7 linked regions of the Homo sapiens genome follow. The protein of the gene in region 5 purifies or fractionates together with the protein of the main gene of each other region. This does not show direct contact. Each region holds a gene or a part of one and is shown on either strand. Other genes may lie near its edges. The genes, in order: GPATCH8, ZSWIM8, VCPIP1, ZFHX4, OLFM2, USP54 and NGLY1.

Region 1 (3,500 bases), on a different chromosome or scaffold from region 5:
TTAACAGAATATAAAAGGAAAAAACCCACAAGGTTATCTCAGTAGATGCAAAATAAGCATTTGACAAAACCCAATACTCTCTTTCATGGTAAAAACACTAAACAAAGCAGGAATTTCTAGAAATTAGGCACTTCCTCAACCTGATGAGAACAAAAAACCCCCAGCTAACATCATAATGGTGAAAGACTGAAAGCTTCTCTATAAAGATCAGAAAGACGACAGGAATGTTCACTGTTGCATTTTTTTTTTTGAGATAGAGTCTCACTCTGTCTGTCGCCCAGGCTGGAGTGCAGTGGTGCGATCTTGGCTCACTGCAACCTCCGCCTCCTGGGTTCAAGCGATTCTCCTGCCTCAGCCTCCTGAGTAGCTCGGATTACAGGCACACAACACCACGCCCAGCTTTTTTTTTTTTTTTTGTATTTTTAGTAGGGAAGGGGTTTCACCATTTTGGCCAGGCTGGTCTGGAACTCCTGACCTCAAGTGACCCGCCCACCTTGGCCTCCCAAAGTGCTGGGATTACAGGTGTGAGCCACCGCACTGGCCACAGTGGTGATAATTTTACAACACTGTAAATAAGCTAAAAATCATTAAATTGTAGTATTGCTATAAAATGACTAAAATGGTAAATTTATGTTATGTGAATTTTATCTCAACAACAATTTTACCTACAAAATTGTGAGGGGGCCAGGCACAGTGGCTCACGCCTGTAATCCCAGCATTTTGGGAGGCTGAGGCAGGCGGATCACTTGAGGTCAGGAGTTCTAGACCAGCCTGGCCAACATGACAGAACCCTGTCTCCACTAAAAATACCAAAATAATTCGCTGGGTGTGATGGTGCACACCTGTAATCCCAGCTACTCAGGAGGCTGGGGCAGGAGAATTGCTTGAAACCAGGAGGCAAAGGTTGCAGTGAGCTGAGATTCTGCCATTGCACTCCAGCCTGGGTGACAGAACAAGACTGTCTCAAAAAGGAAAAAAAAAAAAAAAAAAAAAAGGCGAAAAACACAAAAATCAGCATAGTGTTTATCTCTAAAGGAGACAGAAATGTGATGGGATCATGAAGTTACTGATAGTGCTCTTTTTCTTAAATTGAGTAGAAAATACCTAAGTGTTTATAGTTTTTCTTTATATCTCACATATTAAAAATATTTAATAAAATAACAAGAATGTCAAATGAGACTGCAGTTTTTGTTTTTTCTTTTAAAAGTCTGGTAGAGCTATTTGGCTCTAAGACTATATACAAGTAAAACTTTGATAAAAATGAAAATTAAAAAATAAAAATGGGAGGCTGAGGTAGGGGGATCATTTGAAGTCAGGAGTTTGAGACCAGCCTGGGCAACATAGTGAGACCCTATCTCTTAAAAAAAAAATTAGCCAGGCATGGTGGTGCACGCCTATAGTCTTGGTTACTTGGGAGGCTGAGGTGGGAGGATTGTATGAGCCCAGGAGTTTAAGGCTGTAGTGAGCTACGATAGCACCACAGAACTCCAGCATGGACGACAGAGTGAGATCCCATCTCTATAAAATTAGAGATGAGAGAGTGATGAAAAGGAAGCAGTCAGAGTAGTGACTAAGAATTCTGGTTCTAAAGACAAGTGAAAAGAGAAGGTGGTAGCTATATGGAGAGTAAATCAGAGTGGGTTTTTTTTTTTTTTTTTTAATTTTAGGATTCCCTCTCCCAACAAATCTTCAAGTATGTTTACTGTTGATAGGAAAAGAACAAATAAAGAGAAAGGTTGCCAATACAGGAAAGAAGTGGAAGGTCTTTGATAAGACAGGGAGAGTTAGGATCCAGAATTCAGATGTATGTACAAATTATCATTTAACAGATGGTGAAACAAAAGAGAAATATTGAAGTATGAGAGCAGGTGAACCCTCGTTTGATGTAGGATAGTATACGTAGATGAAGGCATTACTACCTGATGGTCCAAATTCTCTTTCTTAACTAAAAACATACGGGAAGGCAGAGATACGACAAGGGTAGTTAAGGAAAGATGAAGGCTGAGTACCAATGTTTGAGAATGACAGCTGAGAGGACTAAGAGGGACATGACACATGAGAGGATTAATTGGCAGCTCTGAGGGCCCAGTGAGGTTGGCAGAAAGGGTATAGAAATAAAGAATGCAAGTAATGCATTTTGTACTAACGGGACAGGCTTTTGGTGAGTATGTATGACAAAAGGACTAGGAGGAAAGGGAGTTGGAATCAAAGTGCTGTGAGAGGTAAACATGAGTGTGTGGTGCTAGAGGGGAAAAGTACAAATTAAGGAGGAGCTAAGTTACTAAAGCTTCCAAAGTCATGTGAAGTTGAAGAAAAAATATAGGAGAATAAAGGAGTGACAGCAGGAAGGAAAAAAGACCATGGTCAGATAATAGGACATTTAAGATTTTAGAAACAGTGTAGTTCAGAGTTGACAGGGTTTCGGAGTAAATATTTTGATCAATAAGATGGGGAAAGTAATTCTTGCTCTTGCCCAGGCTGGAGTGCAGTGGTGTGATCATAGGTCACTGCTGTCTTCAACTCCTGGGCCCAAGTGATCCTCCCAATTCAGCTTCTCTAAGTAGCTGGGATTTATAGGCATGCACCACCAACACCTAGCTATTTTTTTTCTTTTTTCTTTTTGTAGAGACAGATTCTTGCTACATTGCCCAGACTGCTCTCAAACTCCTGGGCTCAAGCAATCCTCCCAAAGCACAGCCGTGATCCACCGCACCCAGCCGAGAAATAATTCTATTACCAGGGAGAGAGCATCTCAAGATACTATGTATAATCTTATGAGGCTGTGAATTACTGAGGTATTTCATTTATTTTTCACTCGACAGTGTAACTTTTACTTGAAAAATAAAAATGTATTCTTTATAATGTTTATATTTCAGACAGTACATAAAATGAATCTGGCTTTTCTCACTATTTCAAAATATTTATTCATTCAACTAATATTTATTGAGTACTTATGCACCACACACTGTGCTGGATGCAGGATATATACTGGCAGACAAATAGACATACTCTCTCTCCTCAATGCCCTTTCTGACTAGTACAGAAAGCAGAATATAAATTAGTGAATAAAAATTTATAATTACAAATTGTAAGAGAGGTTGTTGCAAGAGAATAAGGCAGAGTGGTTAATTATTTAAATGAGTTGATTAGGGAAGATCTATAATGAGGTAATATTTAAGCTAAAACCCAAAGGAGAAAATTTAACCAAGTGAAAGATGATGAAACATGGTGTCATGACCACTCTTGTGCCTAGAGAAAGAATGTAGCCAGAAAAAGAGGGCCCAGGTCTGAAGCTGAGGAACTCCAATATCTGAAGTTCAGGCAGAATAAACAGCAGCCAACAAAGGAATCTACATAGAAGCAGCAAGACAGATAAGAAGCAACTAATCTAGGAAAGTATAAATTCTTCAAAACCAAGAGTAATGAAAATGTTTTAAAGAAGAAAGAGTATGCCAGGCGCAGTGGCTCACGCCTGTAATCCCCACACTTTGGGAGGCCGA
Region 2 (3,344 bases), on a different chromosome or scaffold from region 5:
AGGTGTTAGATGAGATTCCAATGTCTCCCTCAGAGCTGTCTCATTCCCAGGGAATCATCAGAGGTCAGTGTCAATGCTTAGAGTCCATTATCAGAGCAGTGAGTGCTTCACACACTGAGTAAATACTGACCAAAATGAGTCAAGACCCAGGTTATAGTCCCAGTTCCAAACTAATTTAACAGCCCCCTCCCATTCAAGTCTTAGATGTATGAGGCCTTCCCTAAGTTTTCTATCCTGAGTGATCATCTTGGTCCCTAAACCGTAGGCCTCCATTTCCTTATCTGTAAAATAGAAATAAACCTAACCTTTGAGTTGTAAGGTAAAGGAAAGATGGGTGTGAAAGCACATTAATGGGTAAAATGTTGCCATGAGAGGACCAACAATCATCTGTAAACTCCAGGATACGGGAATCAAGAGCTGGGCCCTTAGCTTTCCCATGCCCAACCTCCCTGCCCAGATGCCCCAGAAGAGGTTCCCAGATTGCCCGTAGAAATACCTGTTCCTTGCACTGCACCAGGGCCCGCTGGATCTCATTAGGGTTCAATGCATGGGCGTGAGGCAGGCAGCTCAGGGCCAGCTCTGCTGCCGCCCTCACCATATTGGAGTCTCTTGCCCGTGATGCCCTGTCAGCCAGGGATGCAACCTCAGGGGGTGTCAGGTGCCCATCCCAGCATTCTACCAGTATAGTCAGGGCTGCGCTGCCTATCTCCATGGCCTGGCCTTAGGGGAAAGGAGAGAAGGGCAGAGTTGGGTTAGTGTGGGCACCACTGGGGTGTGAGAATAATGTCTTTTTATCAGATCAGTAACCCCACAAAGATAAGGGTCTTATCCCCACCAATTAATCCCCCTCCCATACCCAAGTCAGGTCAAATGATTTACCTGTAATCCAGGAAACGTGGGAAGAATAAGTACGTGAGAGCCAGTTGGGAGAAACAAAGTTGTGCAGGCCAAGGGCATAAAGCCCAATCTCGAAGGCGCAAAGGTGCAGGTTGCGGTGAGGACCCTGGTGGCCCCCTGAGGAAGATGGATGTGTGAAAATGGAAGTGCTGCTGTTGCCCCCTGCCTTGATCAGCACTGTCTTCGCCAGCTCGAAGTAGAAGTGTGCAGCTGCCTCTGATGGCTGATTGGGTACATGAGGGGCATGACTCTCGGGGCGGCGGCCCTTGTACCTGAAGGGGCAATGGGGTAGGGACGGGGGTTGGGGTTTCTTTGAAATGGGCATCCGGGTAGGTTGGGAAGGACCAGGGAAAGTGAGGATGCTGGGAGACAATGGTTGGATTGCACTAGGGGTGTGGCTCTGAGGGTGGGCCAGATCAGGGAAGATGGGGAGTTCTTCCCACTGACCTGCCAACTTCAACAGTCTTCGCCCGGGCTCCTCCACTGGCACTGGCCCGGCGACTTCCACTGGAGGATGAGGAGCCCAGGGAGTCCGAAGAAGAGCTGCTAATGCTGTCACTGTCCTGACCTCGACCCCAGGAGGTGGGGGCCCAGCCCCCTCGAAGTGGTCTCCGGCTTAAGGTGGGGGAACTATCCGATGTTGTTTCAGGGGCACTGCTGTCAATGCTGGCCATGCCTAACCCCCAAGAGAAGTCAGTCTCAGAAGTCAGGAGTCCCAGATGTTAAGACTCCAACCTTCAGGATTATCCTTCCCTCTATGCTAGCCCACAGGCTATCCTACCTGTGTGCTTCTTCTTAGGCCGTCCTGGGGACCCCCATCCCCGTCCATTATAGCCTCCACGACTGCCAAGTGCCAAGCGGCTAGGAACCTTCCCTTCTGGCCTTGGGGTCAAAGCTGCCTCAGATGGAAGACCCTCACAGGGGGAATGTGGGGAACTCTCTAGGTGAGGAAAACAGGACGCTGGGATGAGCCCAGGAAAGGGGACCTCAACATAGGTCCACACCATTCATCCCCCCTGCCCAGTGCCCCCACCTCACCAGGCACATTCTTCTCTGTGAAGCCCTCAGTGGGGCCTGGCCCAGCCCCTGCCACACTCCCTGGTTGAGCAGGCCCTGCAGAGCCTGAGGTCAGTGGTTGCAGGGCCCCTGGGGCAGATGGGCCCCCGTGCTTTGAAGGAGACCTCTGGCTGGCTGTGGTTGGGCGGCTAGATGAGTAGAAAGAACTCAGCGTCTGTGGCTTATGTGTCTGGCTCTCTCGGTCCAAGAGTTTGTCTAAGATCTGGAAGACAGAAGCAGTGACCTCCAGAGAAGCAGTGACAGGATGCCCTTTAGCTCCTGACTTCTATTACCTTCCTTTCTCCTTGAAACAGCCAATTGCTACATCCTCAGGGAGCCTTCCCCACTTACAACCACAGGATGACCTCCTGGTTTACATGTCTTTTTGTAACTTATTTAACCCCAACATATCTTGGTATCCTCCATTAACACCACAGGGCAGAATATACTGATAGTCAATAAATACTGAAATAAGTGAATGAATGACTTTATGCCCTCTGCTTCTCTTCTTCCACCCCATGCCCAAGCACTCCTATAAGAACCATTGGTCTTCTCTTATTCTTTATGAGATGTCCCCAAGATTCCCTACTTACCTCCTATGGGCAGAAGAGCACTTTTCTTTTTTTCTTCTTCTTCTTTTTTTTTTAAGAGACAGGGTCTCGCTCTGTTGCCCAGGCTGGAGTGCAGTGGTATGATTATAGCTCACTGTAGCCTCAAACTCCTGGGCTCAAGCAATTCTCCCACCTCAGCCTCCCGAGTAGCTGGGACTACAGGCGCGCGCCACCATGCCCGGCTAATTTTCTAATTTTTTGTAGAGACAGGGTCTCACTATGTTGGCCAGGTTGGTCTCAAACGATCCTCCCGCCTCTGCTTCCCAAAGTGCTGAGATTACAGGCATGAGCCACTGCACCCAGCCTAAAATAGCACTTTTCTCATTGTACTGGAAACTCCCTGAGAAAGGTAGTAAAATGTGCTCTCTTTCTCTGCCTGTCAAAGGCCCCAGTACCTTGCCTTTTTTTTTTTTTTTTTTTTTTGAAACAGGGTCTTGCTCTGTCACCCAGGCTGGAGTGCAGTGGCGTGAACCCAGCTCATTGCAACCTCTGCCTACTGGGTTCAAGCAATCCTCCCACCTCAGCCTCCCGAGTAGCTGGGACTACAGGCATGTGCCACCACACCCAGCTGCTAATTTTTTGTATTTTTTGGTAGAGACGGGGTTTCGCCATGTTGCCCAGGCTTGTCTCAAACTCCTGGGCTCAAGCCATCTGCCCGCCTCTGCCTCCCAAACTGCTGGGATTACAGGCATGAGCCACCGCACCCAGCCCCAGTCTCTTACCTTCTTAAGCTTGGCCTGGTCGTCCTTGTAAGTGATCATTAGTGCTAATGCCAGGTCA
Region 3 (3,500 bases), on a different chromosome or scaffold from region 5:
CACTAACCACTATAATTATTTTTGGCTTTTTCAGCCACTGGAACTTTTTTTGGGGGGATTTAAATACAGGAAAACTGTTTAAGCAAAAAATGCACTGCTTTCATGTAAAATGATATAATCTTCTTTAACAAATATTTTCTTCATTGATAACTGACAGATATCTCATAGCATTAACATAAAATACCAGAAACAAACTTTATCTCCCTATTCTTACATTTAGTGCAAATTGGAATGCGTATGTGAATGTTAGAAGATGGACTTAATCTCTGACAACTTTATTAATTTCTCTAGCTACAGCAATGCTATTTAAAAGCCAGTTAGGTATGAATAGTACAGTAATAGTTTGGGTTCTCCCTTGATAAATGAATAAAAGGCTCAATTCTGATAAGTGATCAAATTTCTTGAAATTCTTTCAAATCAGCTGAAAATTTGGTTGGGGTGAATTGATGGTTTTTGAGAAGTAGGCCAGGTATCCTCACAAAGAAGTTTTAGAATAGGGTTTCTTTTAAGTTTTTAAATATCATCCTTTGTCTTTCCATATGGTTTTCATAACCAAATACATGACTATAGCATGGTTATTTTTCTAGTACTGCCATTTGTGATATAGCCACATCTTGGCGTGCAAGCTAGACATCTCAGGTAAATTTGTTTTTTTTTTTTTTTTTAGCCCTAGAGGTAACATTATAACTAAAATGCATTCCTGCAATTCTGTTTGCAGTGCTTCACTAAACATTGAAATAAAGTTGTAAATTTTTTCTTCAGTAATCCATTTTATAGTTAATCATACCAAATTTAAGTTGATGACCTAAAGTCCAGGTAGTGTTGAAGATAGTATGTATCTAGAATACTGGTAATGAGAAATTGTTGTAAATTGAAGAAAACAAGATGCTGCCATATATTAAGATAGAATATAATTAACTCCATGAGAATGGTTACTCAGGAACTAGTTAAAGAGCAAACCCATTTCTCCCGCTTCACTCTGTTTCAGATATTTTTATTGGAAAATGTTAGGGTAGAGGCCTGAGAAAGTTAGCAAATGCTATTGACTGATACTGGCTCTGTGTCTTCCAGTGATTTTTAGTTTGGTTTTTACAGTCAAGCCTACTGCTTGCAATTAAGATATCAATCTGAAATGCATCTGTAATTCCTGGCCACAGGTCCTTATTGCCATTATTTTTAAGTATCTTCATTGGAGATGAACACTGACTTTTGCATATGGTCTCTTACCTCAGGGAAGATCACTTGCTAGCAACTCATACTACTAATGACAGGTTTTTGAGAATTGTACTGACATCACATGTTAGCTACTAAATGCAAAATGTATAAAAGTATTGTTTTATGTAGTTACCTACCAATACTATCTGCTACTGAATAACTCTCTAAATATGTAGACCTCACTAATAACTAACCTTTAGGTAAAAAATTTACTTCTGTCATTAATTACACTTCAACTGGTCAATATAGTGGCAGCATAAAGTGTTTATTTCAGAATATCAATACAGTTTTGTCTTCATTTTTCAACAGTAATTTCAATTGGTTCATACTTAAAATACTACACAGATTTTGAGTTTTATGGTTCTCAAAGCAAGGTTTCCATCTTAAGATTTTTATAAACACAAAGCCTTTGCAAAATTGGATTAAATTCCACCTATCTTAATGTGAATTAAAAACCACCATTTATAATAATAATAGCGCCATATTCTAAGTTGAGTAAATGCATCCTACCATTCAAGGTTATCATATAATTTAACAAAATTGTACAACCTTAAGGCTCTTCACAGTATAAATTAATTTTTCAAACCAGAGCTGTTCACATGAAAATATTCCTTAGTAGAATGTATATTTAAGAAATAAAACAACAAAGGGGAACTATATCACCCATGTAAGTTATAGAGTTAATTACAAGTTCTACCATTCTTGATAATTCTTTGAGATGCTAAGTGTTTCAGTTCATATTTAATGATACTTAAATCGTGGGAATTTTAATGTTTGTTCCAAAATAGCAGAAATTGTAAAAATTATGAATTATTGGAGAAAATGCCATTACTTGTATATCTGACATTTAATTTTTTAATTATGGAGACTACATGCTTTTGTAGTATAATATTAATGATTATTCTCTTGTAAAAGAAAAGGAAAAATTAGTAAAGAAAAAAGTTTTAGTTGATGTTACCTGCTTGTGAGTATCAATTACTTAGTTTTTAAATTTTTAAGGTATTGCCTACTTTTCTTTAGAATGCAGAAATCTCGTCCTGAGCCCTTATTATGCCTGTGGTAGAGCAATGCAAGACTGAAAAGGTTGCCAGTATTTTCAGGCTTATTTGACTAAGAATTAGTGCCAAGAACTGGAAAGTCTACTTTTTGGAGGGAAATGATACTTAGAATTTGTAAACATAAGCAGTAATAGTGTAAATATTTAGAAAAATAGCAAGTGCTTTAACTGCTCAATAAAATAGTATAGATGTTATTTCACCCTTAAGGCACTGGCTGTTGCCCATTATTTTCCGATTTCGTGATTACTGTATATATTACATTTGAGTAATGAATAATTGGTAATAGTGTATTATAGTGTTCTACAGCACACCTTACTGTACAGTATTTGAAGTTTTCTTTTATATCAATAATAAAACTATAAGTTAATACTGATTTTCCCCTGAAATTCTCCACATTAGCTTTTAAAGGTAATTTTATGTTCTTTAGTTTCCTGGAATTATAATGCATGAACATATAGTTCAGTTTTATAAAGAAATTCTTAAATAATAAAGTTTTCTTGTTGAACTTAAGCGGGTTATCGTACAGGAATAGTGATTTTTCCCCTTAATGTAGATTTCATTGCTAGATGAAATGGACCCAGTGAAAAAAGAGTGCGCAATTTAAAAAAAAACCAAAACGGTCTCACTCTGCTGCCCATGCTGGATTGCCGTGGCATGATCAGGGCTCACTGCAGCCTCAACCTCCTGGGCTCAAGTGATCCTCCCACCTCAGCCTCCTGAATAGCTGGGACTACAGGCATGTGCCACCACACCTGGCTAATTTTTGTATTTTTTGTAGAGATAGGGTTTTGCCATGTTGCCCAGGCCGGTCTTGAACCCCTGAGCTCAAGTGATCTGCCCTCCTCTGCCTCTTTAAGTGCTGGGATTACAGGCGTGAGCCACCGCACCCTGCCAGCAAAATTTCTTTAGACATATTACATAATTGGGCCATAATGCTTACTGAATATTTAAAAATGAAGGCAAATTCTAACAGAGAACTTGATTTTGTGGTGGTTTAAAAAAATACTGGTTAGTGATAAGGAAATGAAAGGAAATACAGATAATAGTACTAAATAACGTTTGTGTAGCTTAGCAGTCAACACGTTTACTTCCAAGTTTTATTGTATATGCTTAATATACATTTTATTAGATCATTTAACTCAATAATTTAGAGTATAGCCTTAGACACCAGACTGCCTAGGTCTGACTCCTGGTACGCTGCTTTCTGTGACCTCTCTGTGCATTCCT
Region 4 (3,500 bases), on a different chromosome or scaffold from region 5:
AGCACCTCGAGCTCAGCAGAGCAGCCGCTGGGGATTACCCAAATGCCAAAGGCTGAAGTGAATCTGGGGGGGCTGTCTAGTTTAGTAGTGAACACCCCAATTACCTCTGTCTCCCTCAGCCACTCATCGTCTGAGTCTAGCAAGATGTCAGAGAGCAAAGACCAAGAGAACAACTGTGAAAGGCCAAAAGAAAGCAACGTTTTACACCCAAACGGGGAGTGCCCTGTCAAAAGTGAACCCACTGAACCGGGAGATGAGGATGAAGAAGATGCGTACTCCAATGAACTTGATGACGAGGAAGTATTAGGTGAACTCACCGATAGTATTGGTAACAAAGATTTCCCTCTCTTAAACCAAAGCATTTCTCCTTTATCATCCAGTGTGCTAAAATTTATTGAAAAGGGTACCTCGTCCTCCTCGGCGACTGTTTCTGATGACACAGAAAAGAAAAAACAGACTGCTGCTGTTAGGGCCAGTGGCAGTGTTGCTAGTAACTATGGCATCAGTGGCAAGGACTTTGCAGACGCAAGTGCCAGTAAAGACAGTGCCACAGCTGCTCATCCAAGTGAAATAGCCCGGGGAGACGAAGACAGTTCAGCCACTCCTCACCAGCATGGCTTTACCCCGAGTACTCCTGGCACACCAGGGCCTGGAGGAGACGGCTCACCGGGCAGTGGCATCGAGTGTCCAAAGTGCGACACTGTGTTGGGGTCTTCGAGGTCTCTTGGTGGTCATATGACTATGATGCACTCGAGGAACTCATGCAAAACCCTCAAATGTCCTAAATGTAACTGGCACTACAAATATCAGCAGACCCTGGAGGCCCATATGAAGGAGAAACACCCTGAGCCGGGTGGCTCTTGTGTTTATTGTAAGACTGGACAGCCTCACCCCAGGCTTGCCCGGGGTGAGAGTTACACGTGTGGCTATAAACCCTTCCGTTGTGAGGTTTGTAACTACTCTACCACTACCAAAGGCAACCTCAGTATTCATATGCAGTCGGACAAGCACCTGAACAATGTTCAGAATCTCCAAAATGGCAATGGTGAGCAGGTGTTTGGCCACTCTGCCCCAGCCCCCAACACCAGCCTCAGTGGCTGCGGAACACCCTCTCCGTCCAAACCCAAACAGAAACCCACCTGGCGGTGTGAAGTTTGTGATTATGAAACCAATGTCGCCAGGAACCTCCGAATTCATATGACCAGCGAAAAGCACATGCATAATATGATGCTTTTGCAGCAGAACATGAAGCAGATCCAGCATAATCTGCACTTGGGCCTCGCCCCGGCGGAAGCAGAGCTTTATCAGTACTACCTAGCCCAGAACATAGGCCTGACCGGAATGAAGCTGGAAAACCCTGCCGACCCTCAGCTGATGATCAATCCATTCCAGCTGGATCCAGCGACAGCAGCGGCTTTGGCACCAGGGCTCGGTTAGTATTTCCTGCTTTTCTGCACTGTTGTTAGTTTCTAATCACATTTTGATTTGGCGTGATGCACCCAGATAAAATGGTGAGTGCCAACAAATTGAGGACAGCTTACTAGAAAGGACTTTCTCTTTAAGCTGGATAATCAAACCATTTGCTCTTCTGCTTCAAAGCGAAATTAACTTCAGAGAAGAAAGAGTTAAGGGATCAATGGCGGCATCAGCGAAGTTAGCAAACTTTGTCTTCATTCAGTAAGTTGATTAACAAAAGCTAATTTGCATTAATTGCCTGCCATCATTAGCCATACCTTACAAGGTTTATAGTTTCAATTTTGGTGATTATTCGCTAACATATCAAACGAGCTTTAAAAGGGTATAGCATTATTTTGAATTAAATATATTTAAGAAATATTTTAATGGCTGTGATCCAAGATAATTAATCTAACAATAATACCATTACCTTATCCCAGGTATTTGGCAGTAGATTACAGGCACGCATACAATATTAGCCAAATCTCATCAAGCTTTAAGACAAATTGGGAAATAACAATTAGTGCTTATGTAAGTTTATCTAGGCTCTTAAATTGAAAGCACGTGACTGTTTTGTTATGGTATTGATCAACTTTCTTGCCCTCGAAAATACAAATTTCAGAATGACATCATGCCCAGTAGGAGTAATTAAAGCTATCTGATGAGGGAATTTAGAAGTTGAAAGGGATGATTGTAATTGATCCTGATTGAATCCTATTACAGCTTTTTATAGTTTAAGCTCTAGAGAAAGCACATTCCTTGTCAAGACTTTATTTTACAGATTCCTTTGTGTGTGCTGTGTTTTCTAGTCTCTATTTTTCCTTTTAATTTTTTTTTCCTGTAGTAAATAATGAGCTGCCGCCTGAAATCCGGCTTGCCAGTGGTCAGCTAATGGGTGATGACCTGTCCCTCCTTACTGCAGGAGAGCTGTCACCTTATATCAGTGACCCAGCGCTGAAGCTATTCCAGTGTGCTGTTTGCAACAAATTCACCTCTGACAGCCTGGAGGCCCTAAGTGTGCATGTGAGCAGTGAGCGCTCTCTCCCTGAAGAGGAATGGAGGGCAGTAATTGGAGATATCTACCAGTGCAAGCTCTGCAACTACAACACTCAGCTCAAAGCCAACTTCCAGCTACACTGCAAGACTGATAAACATATGCAGAAATATCAACTGGTGGCTCACATTAAAGAAGGGGGCAAAAGCAATGAGTGGAGGTTGAAGTGTATTGCCATTGGCAACCCTGTTCACCTAAAATGTAACGCCTGTGACTATTACACCAACAGTGTGGATAAATTACGCTTGCATACCACCAATCACAGGCACGAGGCGGCCCTGAAGCTCTACAAGGTAAGCAGTGACATCCATTTCCGTTGGCACAGAGTAGAAAAGGGAATTAACTCTTTCAGAGCTTGGAGCACAAGTCTCCAACTTAAGGAAAAAAAAAGAGAAAAAACATCAAAGGGCAGGGGGCACAGTTTCTGATTAACATTATAAAAACATATTGAAATATATGGAATTGAAGGCTTTATTTATAAAGTTTTACCCTATGTCTCACTTACACCTGTCTCAGTGGCATTTATTTCTTCACTGGCTTCCCCAAAATAAAAGAATTTGGGGGATAGTGTTATATATAAAATAATACTTTTTAAACCTATTGATTTTTTTTTTTTTTGAACCTAGCACCACTCTTGGCTAAATGTAAATGGTTACAGGGAGCAGAAGACAAAATCAGTGCCTAACCTTGTGAATGCATAATATTTTGTTTGGTGACAAACAATGACGCTCCAAACATAATGTTTGTTTCTTTGTTTTCTTGTGTGTGCTCAGTAGCACTGAGTAAACACACTCTCCCTTAGCATCCTTGGAAGTCTCTAAAAGTAAATTCTGTTGTTATTTTGTATGACTGTCTTCCTATCAATATTTTCCTCCTAAATGGGTGTGGTATAGATAAATATGCTTATTTATACAATGCTTTATACAATGGCAAATATACTTTTATCTTTACTTGGAAGACTGTGCACATGTACTGAATACGTGCAAGTGAT
Region 5 (3,500 bases):
GCAACAAGAGCGAAACTCCATCTCAAAAAAAAAAAGAAAGAAAGAAAGAAATCCACACATACCATATGGTTGGCCTACATGGATACAGTCACTGGTGTGATGATGATACAAGCATGTCCCTGTGCTCATGGTCCCTGAACATGCACACAGTCACCAAACATACACATACACGCATGACACCACAGACACATGCCTATGGGGCCAAAGTTAGAGTGAGGCAAGTTATGCAAGTGCAGAGGGGGAGCCCATATTTATTTAAAAATTTGTTTTTATTCATTATAGATTTTTCTTGCATCAATTTAGATTTTTCTTAAAATGTTCCATTAAAATATTATTTATCTTGGTTACTGGTTTTTATTTTTTTGGGGGGCATACCCTTAAATTTTGTACTATAGCTGAACTCTGTACCATGTACCTGTCACCCTAGCTACTCAGGAGGCTGAGGCAGAAGAATCACTTGAGCCCAGGAGTTGGAGGCTTCAGTGAGCTATGACTGCACCACTGCACTCCAGCATGGGTGACAGAACAAGACCCCGTCTTAGAAATAGGCCCGGCACCGTGGCTCACGCCTGTAATCCCAGCACTTTGGGAGGCCAAGGCGGGCAGATCATCTGAGGTCTGGAGTTCGAGACCAGAGTGGGCAACGTGGTGAAACCCTGTCTCTATTAAAAATACAAAAAAAAAAAAATTTAGCCGGCTGTGGTGCTGTGCGCCTATAATCCCAGCTACTCGAGAGGCTGAGCAGGAGAATCGCTTGAACCCGGGAGGCAGAGATTGCAGTGAGCCGAAATCGCACCACTGCACTCCAGTGTGGACGACACAGCAAGACTCTGTTTCAAATATCATCATCATCATCATCATCAACTTTTTAAAATGTTTGCACCCGCGGCGAGTATCTCACCTGTTTTACCCTGACCTGGGCACCCCCATCCCACATACGCACGCGCCCACGCACAGGTGCACAACCACACACATTCACCCACCAGTCACACAGACGCACACAGTCCCTGCACAAACCTCACTCGACCACTAGATGTCGCTCAAGCTCCATAATCTTAAATCCAGCCCCAAGGGGCTCTTTCCTACACTAACTCGGAGTCTTTAAATTTCCTTTTACTTCCCTCCACTGGGACATTTACATGCTCTAAAGGAGCCCCAGGAGAACATCGTCTTACCCCTAAACAACAGTGCCCTATCGGTGGAATGTCAGGCACAGGTAAAGAAGATGGGTTTTCTTTCTTTCTTTTTTGTGGAGACAGGGTCTCAGTCTGTCGCCCAAGCTGGAGTGCAGTAGTGCAATGATAGCTCACTGCAGCCTCAAACTCCTGGGCTCAAGTGATCTTCACACCTCAGCCTCCTGAGTAGAACTACAAGCCTGGCCAATTTTTTTTAAAGTTACTGCAGAGGCCGGGCACGGTGGCTCACGCCTGTAATCCCAGCAGTTTAGGAGGCCGAGGCAGACAAATCAAGATGTCAGGAGTTCGAGACCAGCCTGGCCAAAATGGTGAAACCCCATCTCTACTAAAAATACAAAAATTAGCTGGGTGTGGTGGCACGCCCCTGTAGTCCCAGCTACTCGGGAGGCTGAGGCACTAGAATCTCTTGAGCCCGGGAGGCAGAGGTTGCAGTGAGCTGAGATCATCACAATACTGTACTGTACTCCAGCATGGGTGACAGAACAAGACTCCATCTCAAAAATAAAAAAAAAAAAAGAAATAAAAAGAAAAAGTTATTGTAGAGATGGGATCTTGCTGTATTGCCCAGGCTGGTCTCAAATTCCTGGCCTCAAGAGACCCTCTGGCTTTGGTCTCCCAAAATGCTGGGATCATAGGTATCAGCCATCACACCTGGCCTGAAGAATGGATTTTCTTGGTGCCTTCCATCCAGGAGCGAGTGTTCCCCTGACACTCTCTTGATAAAAGAATCCTGTGGTTTGAGAAAGAAAGACACTCTGTGTGTGTGAGGGGGTCCATCCATCCATCCATTCATCCATTCAGCAGATATTTCTTGAGCACCTACTGTGTGTCAGGCTCTGCTCTAGACACTGGAGAAACAACAAAGCTAGCTGAACCCTGATAAACTGCCGCTCTAGTGGGGAAACAGAGAATGAATGAATAGAAGAATCATAGAAATGTGGAAACGAGGGCTATAAAGAAAAATATGGCCGGGCGTGGTGGCTCATGCCTATAATCCCAGCACTTTGGGCGGCAGATCACCTGAGGTCAGGAGTTCAAGACCAGCCTGGCCAACATGGTGAAACCCTGTCTCTACTAAAAATACAACAAAAACTAGCTGGGCATCAGGTGGCACGTGCCTGTAGTCCCAGCTACTCGGGAGGCTGAGGCACGAGAATCACTTGAACCGGTGAGGCAAAGCTTGCAGTGAGCCGAGATTGCGCCACTGCACTCCAGCCCAGGCAACAGAGTGAGACTCAGTCTCAAAAAAAAAAAAAAAAAGAAAGAAAGAGAGAGAAAGAAAAAGAACACGGAGTAAGCACTCAGAGAGTGGCAGCAGGGGGCTATTTCACTTAGCTGTTCAGGGTGAGCCTCTTGGAGGAGGTGACATTTAAGCAGAAATCAGAGATAAATAGCTACCAGGGGGAACAGTGTCACAGGCAGAGGGAACAGCAAGTGTGAAGTCCCTGAGGCACGTGATCTAAACTGAATTATTCCTTCTCCCCATCCTCTGAAAGCCCCAGGAAAGAGTTGGTCCCAAACCCAGATAGTGCCAACGATGTAGCTAGATCTTAGGGAGGCCTTCGCAGGGATCAGGAAGGCATCTTTTCCACAAGGAAAATAGTGGGGCTCAGAACTGTCAAGCTCTCTGGTAGTCACTCCCAGGCCAGAACCCAGAACATCTTGGATAGATCCTGGATGAATGGACAATGCCTCTGACAGGCCCTGCTTTCCTGTTCTCCTGCTCTCTGGGTCAAATCCAAACTTCTGCCCACAGCTTACAAGTTCCTAAGTGGTCTGGCTTCCCCGGCCTCATCTCCCCGCGACCTCTCCAGCCACACCAGCGTCCACACTGCTTCTGAAACTCACCAAGCTTGTTCTTACCCCAGGGCCTTTGCACCTTCTGTTCCTCCCACCTTCAATGCTCTTCCCCCAGACACCCACAAGGCTCCCTCTCTCACCTCCTTCAGATGTCACCTGAAACACTACTTCCTTAGAGACACCTTCCCTGACCACACTGGCTCAAATAGCCCCCACCTTGTAATCTTTTTCTGTTTTTTTGCTTTGAGACAGTCTTGTTCTGTTGCCTAGGCTGGAGTGCAGTGGCATGACCTTGGCTCACTGGAACCTCTGCCTCCCAGGTTCAAGCAATTCGCCTGCCTCAGCCTCCTGAATAGCTGGGACTACAGGTGTGCAACACCACACCTGGCTAATTTTTTGCATTTTTAGTAGAGACGGGGTTTCACCATGTTGGCCGGGCTGGTCTCAAACTCCTGACCTCAAGTGATCCACTCACCCTGGCCTCCCAAAGTGCTGGGATTACAG
Region 6 (3,500 bases), on a different chromosome or scaffold from region 5:
TGTTCCCAATCTGAAAACACTAGCCTCCTGTGGGTAAGCCAAAAACCTTTCCATGTATGAAATGATGGAAAACAGTGGGTCTCAACCTTTTTGCAGTGCCTCACATCCAGAGGCAGATTTACCAAGCCACTGAAACTTAAGCTTCAGGACTCTTTCTCTTGCACAGATTCTCAAGGCCCAATATCTCATTTTCTGTTTCAAAAAATATTTTCCTTAAAGGAGGCCCTCTGAATTGCATAAGCTTCAAGTGTCAGAGAATCTAAGTCTGCCCCATCCACATTACATAAATGGGGCTTTTATAGTATATGTCACTTGAGAAAATACATAATTCAAAAAGCTACTTTGAATTCAGTAATACTAATAAATTTGTATTTTATTAATCAAAGAAACATCTAATGTTATTCACTGTATAAAATTTGTTTGAACTAAATAGATCTAAATATAATATTTGGTCCACATTTGGATTTTGGATTCTTGTGCTCACAGCAAGTAACTCCACAGTCAACAGGGCTAAATTGAAAAGATCATTACAGATTAAGGTTGCCAGAATTAAAGACATACCTCTAGAAGCTGGTGACCTTTAGAAAAAAACACTTTCTCTGTATTAGTGAAATACAGAGAATGATTCTTTCACAAGTATACACAGTACAGCTTAATGTGCTACCATTTTTCTCAGGCCAAAGTAATAAACCAGGCTCCAGCTGCAGCCACCCTAATTATCCCCCACTGTATTCTTCACCAACAAAGTCAGCTTCTCTCAGCCTGTTTCGGAAAAAACCCAAAGCAGTCATTCAAAGGAACTGGCTTGTGCATAAAGGGAGATGAGGCCTGGAAGGACACTGGGCCAGGAGGAGCCTGGCGCCCTAAGAGACAGAGGGGTAAATGAGGCCCAGAGAGCTACAGGTTATTAGCATAAGAGATTCATTATGAGCAGAGCTAGAATGGAACTGAAATCAATGAAGACTAGATAGAATTTGTTCGTGCAAAGCCTGGGAACCCTTTGATAAAACCAGGTGTAAAGTGTGGGAAGTTTCTAAGGAGAAGGACTTTTTTTTTTTTTTGAGACAGAGTCTCGCTCTGTCACCCAGGCTGGAGTGCAGTGATGCGATCTTGGCTCACTGCAACAGCCACCTCCACCTCCCGGGTTCAAGCAATTCTCCTACCTCAGCCTCCCGAGTAGCTGGGATTACAGGCATGCGCCACCATGCCTGGCTATTTTTGTACTTTTAGTAGAGACAGAGTTTCGCCATGTTGGCCAGGCTGGTCTTGAACTCCTGGCCTCAAGTGATCCACCCACCTCGGCCTCCCAAAGTTGTGAACCATGCGGTGGCACAGGCGTGAACCACTGCGCCCATCCAAGGAGATGGACTCTTTAAGCTAATTGACTTCACAGTAACTAAAGTTCAATAAAGTCTTTAAGGAGACACTATTAATTGCATGTGTAGAGAACTCCATGACATTAATAAAAATGACAGTATCAAAGTATCTCCACTAAGGCATTTATTAACTACAAAGGAAAATATAGTAGTTTCACAATGGAGAAACCCAGCAGAAACTACCTTAACCAAGTGATCAAGGTCAAAATAACCAGTAATAATACATATTGACATCATGAATGCCATGATATGATGCACTGAAAAGGACACAATTATTTCTGTGGTATTCTTGCCTAAACCATAATCTCAGTCCAATCATCAGAAAAATATCAGACAAATCCAAATTAAGGAATATTTGACAAATAGCCCTCAAACTGATATTGATCAATACTCTACAAAAATGTCAAGGTTATAAAAGACAAAGAAAGACTAAGAAACTTTTACAGAATACAGAAGAGTAAGGAAGAAAAACACCTAAAATGCAATGTGAGATTCCAGATAGGATCCTGGAACAGAAAAAGAACAATGCAGCTTGTGCAAGATGGCGAAACCCTGTCTCTACAAAACAAAGAAAATTTTTTTTTGAAACAAAGTTTCTCACTTGTCACCCAGGCTGGAGTAAAATGGCGCGATCTTGGCTTACTGCAACCTCAGTCACCTGGGTTCAAGCAATCCTCCTGCCTCAGCCTCTGGAGTAGCTGGGATTACAGGCGCCTGCCACCACGCCCAGCTAATTTTTGTATTTTCAGTAAAGATGGGGTTTCACTATGTTGGCCAGGCTGGTCTCAAACTGCTGACCTCGGGTGATCCGCCCGCCTCAGCCTCCCAAAGTGCTGGGATTACAGGCGTGAGCCACTGCACCTGGCCAAAAAAAATTTTTTTTAATTAGCCAGGCTAATGCTTGCCTGTAGTCCCAGCTACTCAGAAGGGTGAGGCAGGAGGACTTTTTGAGCCTGGAAATTCAAGCCTGTAGTGAGCTATGACTGTGCCACTGCACTCCAGCCAGGGTGACAAAGCAAGACCCTGTCTTTAAAAATAAAAAAAAAATAAATTACAATTTAAAAAAACTGAAAATAAAAAAGGAAAAATAATAATGGTAGGCAAACTGGTGAAATTCAGGAAAGCTCTTTAGTTAATAGTGTTATACCAATACTATTAATTCCTGGTTCTGATAAATGTATTATGGTTATATAAGATGGTATCATTAGAGGTAACTATTTTTCCAACTTTTCTATAAATTCAAAATAAAAAACATTTTAAATTATGCAAATAATTCACTGAAGAAGATGGAACTTTGGGCCCAAAAGGGATTGAGGCATTTGGGAAATAAATATTTATATGTCTAAAGGTAGATGGACCAAGATTGATTTATAGGAAAAGAAGAGATGTGAACGGGCACAGTGGCTCACGCCTGTAATGCCAACACTTTGGGAGGCCGAGGCGGACAGATCACGAGGTCAGGAGCTCGAGACCAGTCTGGCCAACATAGTGAAACCCCATCTGTACTAAAAATACAAAAATTAGCCGGGCGTGGTGGCATGTGCCTGTAATCCCAGCTACTCGGGAGGCTGAGGCAGGAGAATTGCTTGAACCAGGGAGTCGGAGGTTGCAGTGAGCCAAGATCACGCCACTGCACTCCAGCCTGGCAATGGAGTGAGACTTTGTCTCAAAAAAAAAAGAAGAGACGTTGACGTAGTTTGTGATCCTACAATCCACTGAGGGTTATATGTGAAACCTCTTGGTTTACTGTTTAATATCACAGTATGGCAATTATTGGGTGTTTTATTAGTTCAGAAACCTGTTTCTCAGAGCTAAATGTGCGCAGAATGAATTAACAGAGAAGTTTAAAACTCAGCAACATCGGGGTAAGTAAATGTAAAATGATAGCGGTCTTGTTAGGATGATGAAATTATGGATTTTTTTCCTTTTTTCTATTTTCTAAATTAACTATAATTTATAAATAATCTATAAACTATCATTTCCTTAAAATAGGGGTTTAAACACATTTTCCCTAAAAATAGAGTGAAAGGACTTGAGACCAGAGATAACCGACCATTGAGACCCGTAATATCCTAACAATATGAAAGCTGGTTAATAATTGGTAACTATTTCCTATTTAGAAAC
Region 7 (3,500 bases), on a different chromosome or scaffold from region 5:
TACTGACATGTTTATCACCCTGTGAAATACATTGAGTGTCAGGAAAAGATGCCCCATTTATCGAAAACTAGCTTTGATAAATGTAGGATTATTTTATAGTTCAGTTTTCTTAAGTGATAAGAAAGAGAGGCTCACTTGTGAGACAGTGTAGCATGGAAGCCAGGAATGCGAATGTTCTGCAGTGCACAAGGAAACTCCACTGAGAAAAGGCCCCACATGTTAATGGTGCTGAGACTGAGAAACCCTAATCTAATACACAGAATAAAGAGTTGAGAATAAAATTTTCTTTGTATTTCACAACCATCTGTGATTCTCAAATTACATATAGTAAAGAACAATGTTTTTGTTTTAATTTCCAATCCCTTATGGACCTATAACTTTTGTAAAATACACTGAAAATTTCATGGCAATATCAAATTGCTGTATACCGAACATTCAATTTCTCTACTTCTTGCTTCATTTTTATGCACTTGTAAACAAACAAAGAAAAAATTTCTGTACTACTTGTGTATGGGTAACAAATAATTTGTAGATTAGCACCAATCTGTGGACATTTTGAATAGCAAAAAAAATAGAGCATTTGTCTCTGAATATTCTGTAATAAACATGATTTTTGAAATTAGGGAAAAGTTTAAAAACATTCATTTAGTATTTATGACACTTTGGCCAATAGGCAATTGACTGGTGAAAAACAAATGCAAAATTTGTTAAAACTTATAAAATTAAAATATTTGGTTTTTGGTTTTGTTTTTACGTCAGAATACCTAGAGAACATGTGTAGATAGGACAAAGTTGATAAGTCATTTGCTAGCATTTGCCTACTCACCATATCATACCCCAGGGCAGGTGGCTTCTTATGGAAGTACATCTTCCTATGGATCCCAGATACTGCCTCAGAATCCTCCTTAACATAGTACTTAAAGAAGTCACTATCACTTTAAGGCAGTTGGTGTCAGGTATGAAACTTATCATCCTAAACTATGTTCTGAGGGTCTTTTGAATATAATACTATGATTAGCTTAACCTTACATTCTTTTAATTTTTTTTAAACAATTCTGATTTATCAAAGTAATTAAAAATCTCAAACCAAAACTTTTCATGTGCTGGTTACTTGTCCCAAGTGTACTATTCAAAATCTTAATTATGGTAAAAGAAATTTATGTCTTCCTTTTATTGCCATACTGTCTGTGTCAAGAATATGTCTTGGGCCAGGTGCGGTGGCTCACGCCTGTAATCCCCAGCACTTTGGGAGGCTGAGGCGGGTGGATCACCTGAGGTCGAGAGTTCGAGACCAGCCTGGTCGACATGGTGAAACCCTGTCTCTACTTAAAAAATGCAAAATTAGCCAGGAGTGGTGGTGCACCCCTGTAATCCTAGCTACTTGGGAGGCTGAGGTGGGAGAATTGCTTGAACCTGGGAGGTGGAGGCTGTAGTGAGCCGAGGTCACGCCACTGCACTCCAGCTTGGGAAACAGAGCAAGACCCCTCTCTCAAAAAAAAAAAAAAAAAAAAAAAAAAAGAATGTATCTTAAACTGAAGCGAGACCCCCCCCATCTCAAAAAAAAAAAATGTACCTTAACAGCACAGAATGTAATTTACTGTTTTTACTTATAGTAAAAACAACCATTGGTTTAGGGAAGAAAGAAAATCAGGTGACTATAAAGGTATACCTAGGTCATGTTTGTTGAAAGTAAAGTCTTTGAAGAACTATGACCTGGTTTTTTTTATATATAATCAAACTTTTGTTTTTTGTCAGAAACCCTAATGATGAAAAATATAGATCCATCCGGATTGGAAACACAGCCTTTTCTACTAGACTCTTGCCTGTCAGAGGAGCTGTTGAATGTTTATTTGAAATGGGCTTTGAAGAGGTAAGTATGTTCAAGGATTTCCTCTCCCCTCTTCATGCACAAAGCAGCCATTATCATGTTGGTGAATAATTGTTTGAATAAGATAATGTTTTTTAATTTATCATTTTGGGAATCAGTAGAAGTAGTTATTTCTTCATTGATTGGACATTTAAAAATCACAACAAGTATAGTTTAAAATTTCAGTAAAATGTAACAACGCTCCACAGAGAAATTCTTACGAGTCTCAGTTCTTTAAAATAAGGGTCATACATGCAACCCAAGGACCAAATGTGGTTCACTTTAGGCTTTTAGCTAAAACCTGATTTGTGAGCACACATGAATACTAATAGAGTCTAGCTACCTGTCTGTAGTAGGAAATGAAAAGAGTCTGAAGTAAACAGAAAAACTGAGTTGAGCTGCCACACAGAAGGGGTTTCTTCTGTGACAGGAGAGGAGTCTCAGTATTTTTTTTTGTTTTTACTTCAAATGAATATTTTGGTGTTATCTTTTGGAATCTTGTGGTGTAGTTTAATTTTATGACACATCGAAAGTAGTTATTAAGATTCTGAATTTTCTTTATGTTTATATCCTTAACTAGTTCTCCTTTGTAGAGCATTGAAAGAACTTGAACAAGTTACAGAGACTCAATAGTCAGTGGTCGTCAGAATAGGCAATTGTAGAAGTTGTTAAAGAGATATGCTGAGCTGCTATGTAAGATTCACTTTTCTTCATGCCTCTCTGCTTCCCTCCCCAGGTTCCATTTCAGGCCCTGAAGTAACAGTAGTGAACAAAGTAGTAGATATAATCCCACCTCACATAGAGCTTACATTCTAGTAGGTTAAACAGCCAGTAGATGTGAAAACAAGATGAGTGCAAAGAAGAAAATAAGACCAGGTAATAGAATAAAAAGTACTTTGCATGGCAGGCAGTGGTCAGGGAAGTCCTCTCTGAGGAGATGACATTTGAGCTGTGACTTGAAACATCTCAGGTACCTGAAACTCTCAGGTAAGAGTGTTTCAGGCAGAAGGATTAATGTGTGTAAAGGATTTCCAGCAGAAGTAACCGTGAAACAGAAATAAGCTGCATAGGGAGGCAGAGACCAGGACACATGGGGTCTTGAGGAATGTGGCAAAAGACTTAGACTTTATTTTAAGTGAGATGAGAAGCCACTGGGAATTTTTTTTTTTTTTTTTTTTTTTGAGATGGAGTTTCGCTCTTGTTGCCCAGGCTGGAGTGCGGTGATGCAATCTCAGCTTACCACAACCTTCGCCTCCTGGATTCAAGCGATTCTCCTGCCTCAGCCTCCTGAGTAGCTGGGATTAAAGGCATACGACAGCACGCCTGGCTAATTTTGTATTTTTAGTAGAGATGGGATTTCTCCATGTTGGTCAGGTTGGTCTCGAACTCTTGACCTCAGGCGATCCGCCCGCCTTGGCCTCCCAAAGTATTGGGATTACAGGCGTGAGCCGCCGTGCCCAGCCTGGAAAGTTTTAAGTAGGGAAAAATATTTTTGAAGATTATTCTAGCTTGCTGTAAAGAGAATTCCTGGAGGTGGTGGGATGGGGACAAGGGATGAAGCAGGGAGACCGGTTAGAAAGCTTATTACATTAGTCTAAATAAGAAATGGTAGTGGTTTGTATAAAGTCCATGA

The links.
Region 1: the proteins of OLFM2 (region 5) and GPATCH8 purify together in Homo sapiens (affinity purification with mass spectrometry; 2 studies listed by BioGRID and IntAct, with this or other methods). This does not show direct contact.
Region 2: the proteins of OLFM2 (region 5) and ZSWIM8 purify together in Homo sapiens (affinity purification with mass spectrometry; 2 studies listed by BioGRID and IntAct, with this or other methods). This does not show direct contact.
Region 3: the proteins of OLFM2 (region 5) and VCPIP1 purify together in Homo sapiens (affinity purification with mass spectrometry; 2 studies listed by BioGRID and IntAct, with this or other methods). This does not show direct contact.
Region 4: the proteins of OLFM2 (region 5) and ZFHX4 purify together in Homo sapiens (affinity purification with mass spectrometry; 2 studies listed by BioGRID and IntAct, with this or other methods). This does not show direct contact.
Region 6: the proteins of OLFM2 (region 5) and USP54 purify together in Homo sapiens (affinity purification with mass spectrometry; 2 studies listed by BioGRID and IntAct, with this or other methods). This does not show direct contact.
Region 7: the proteins of OLFM2 (region 5) and NGLY1 purify together in Homo sapiens (co-immunoprecipitation; one large-scale study listed by IntAct). This does not show direct contact.

What each region holds. Positions count from the first base shown.
Region 1 is NC_000017.11:44,430,407-44,433,906, forward strand, and holds part of GPATCH8 (G patch domain-containing protein 8), read right to left. Parts: intron 1-3,500.
Region 2 is NC_000010.11:73,795,606-73,798,949, reverse strand, and holds part of ZSWIM8 (zinc finger SWIM domain-containing protein 8), read right to left. Parts: coding exon 3,287-3,344; intron 2,630-3,286; coding exon of another isoform or gene 2,547-2,629; intron 2,437-2,546; exon of another isoform or gene 2,177-2,436; coding exon 1,936-2,176; coding exon of another isoform or gene 1,931-1,935; exon of another isoform or gene 1,838-1,930; coding exon 1,679-1,837; exon of another isoform or gene 1,574-1,678; coding exon 1,345-1,573; intron 1,170-1,344; coding exon 880-1,169; exon of another isoform or gene 721-879; coding exon 497-720; exon of another isoform or gene 1-496. UniProt on the Homo sapiens protein: Substrate recognition component of a SCF-like E3 ubiquitin-protein ligase complex that promotes target-directed microRNA degradation (TDMD), a process that mediates degradation of microRNAs (miRNAs).
Region 3 is NC_000008.11:66,629,232-66,632,731, reverse strand, and holds part of VCPIP1 (deubiquitinating protein VCPIP1), read left to right. Parts: 3' UTR 1-3,500. UniProt on the Homo sapiens protein: Deubiquitinating enzyme involved in DNA repair and reassembly of the Golgi apparatus and the endoplasmic reticulum following mitosis. Necessary for VCP-mediated reassembly of Golgi stacks after mitosis.
Region 4 is NC_000008.11:76,705,247-76,708,746, forward strand, and holds part of ZFHX4 (zinc finger homeobox protein 4), read left to right. Parts: coding exon 1-1,432; intron 1,433-2,299; coding exon 2,300-2,802; intron 2,803-3,500. UniProt on the Homo sapiens protein: May play a role in neural and muscle differentiation. May be involved in transcriptional regulation.
Region 5 is NC_000019.10:9,930,016-9,933,515, forward strand, and holds part of OLFM2 (noelin-2 isoform 2 precursor), read right to left. Parts: intron 1-3,500. UniProt on the Homo sapiens protein: Involved in transforming growth factor beta (TGF-beta)-induced smooth muscle differentiation.
Region 6 is NC_000010.11:73,581,343-73,584,842, forward strand, and holds part of USP54 (ubiquitin carboxyl-terminal hydrolase 54), read right to left. Parts: intron 1-3,500.
Region 7 is NC_000003.12:25,776,944-25,780,443, reverse strand, and holds part of NGLY1 (peptide-N(4)-(N-acetyl-beta-glucosaminyl)asparagine amidase), read left to right. Parts: intron 1-1,755; coding exon 1,756-1,870; intron 1,871-3,500. UniProt on the Homo sapiens protein: Specifically deglycosylates the denatured form of N-linked glycoproteins in the cytoplasm and assists their proteasome-mediated degradation. Cleaves the beta-aspartyl-glucosamine (GlcNAc) of the glycan and the amide side chain of Asn, converting Asn to Asp.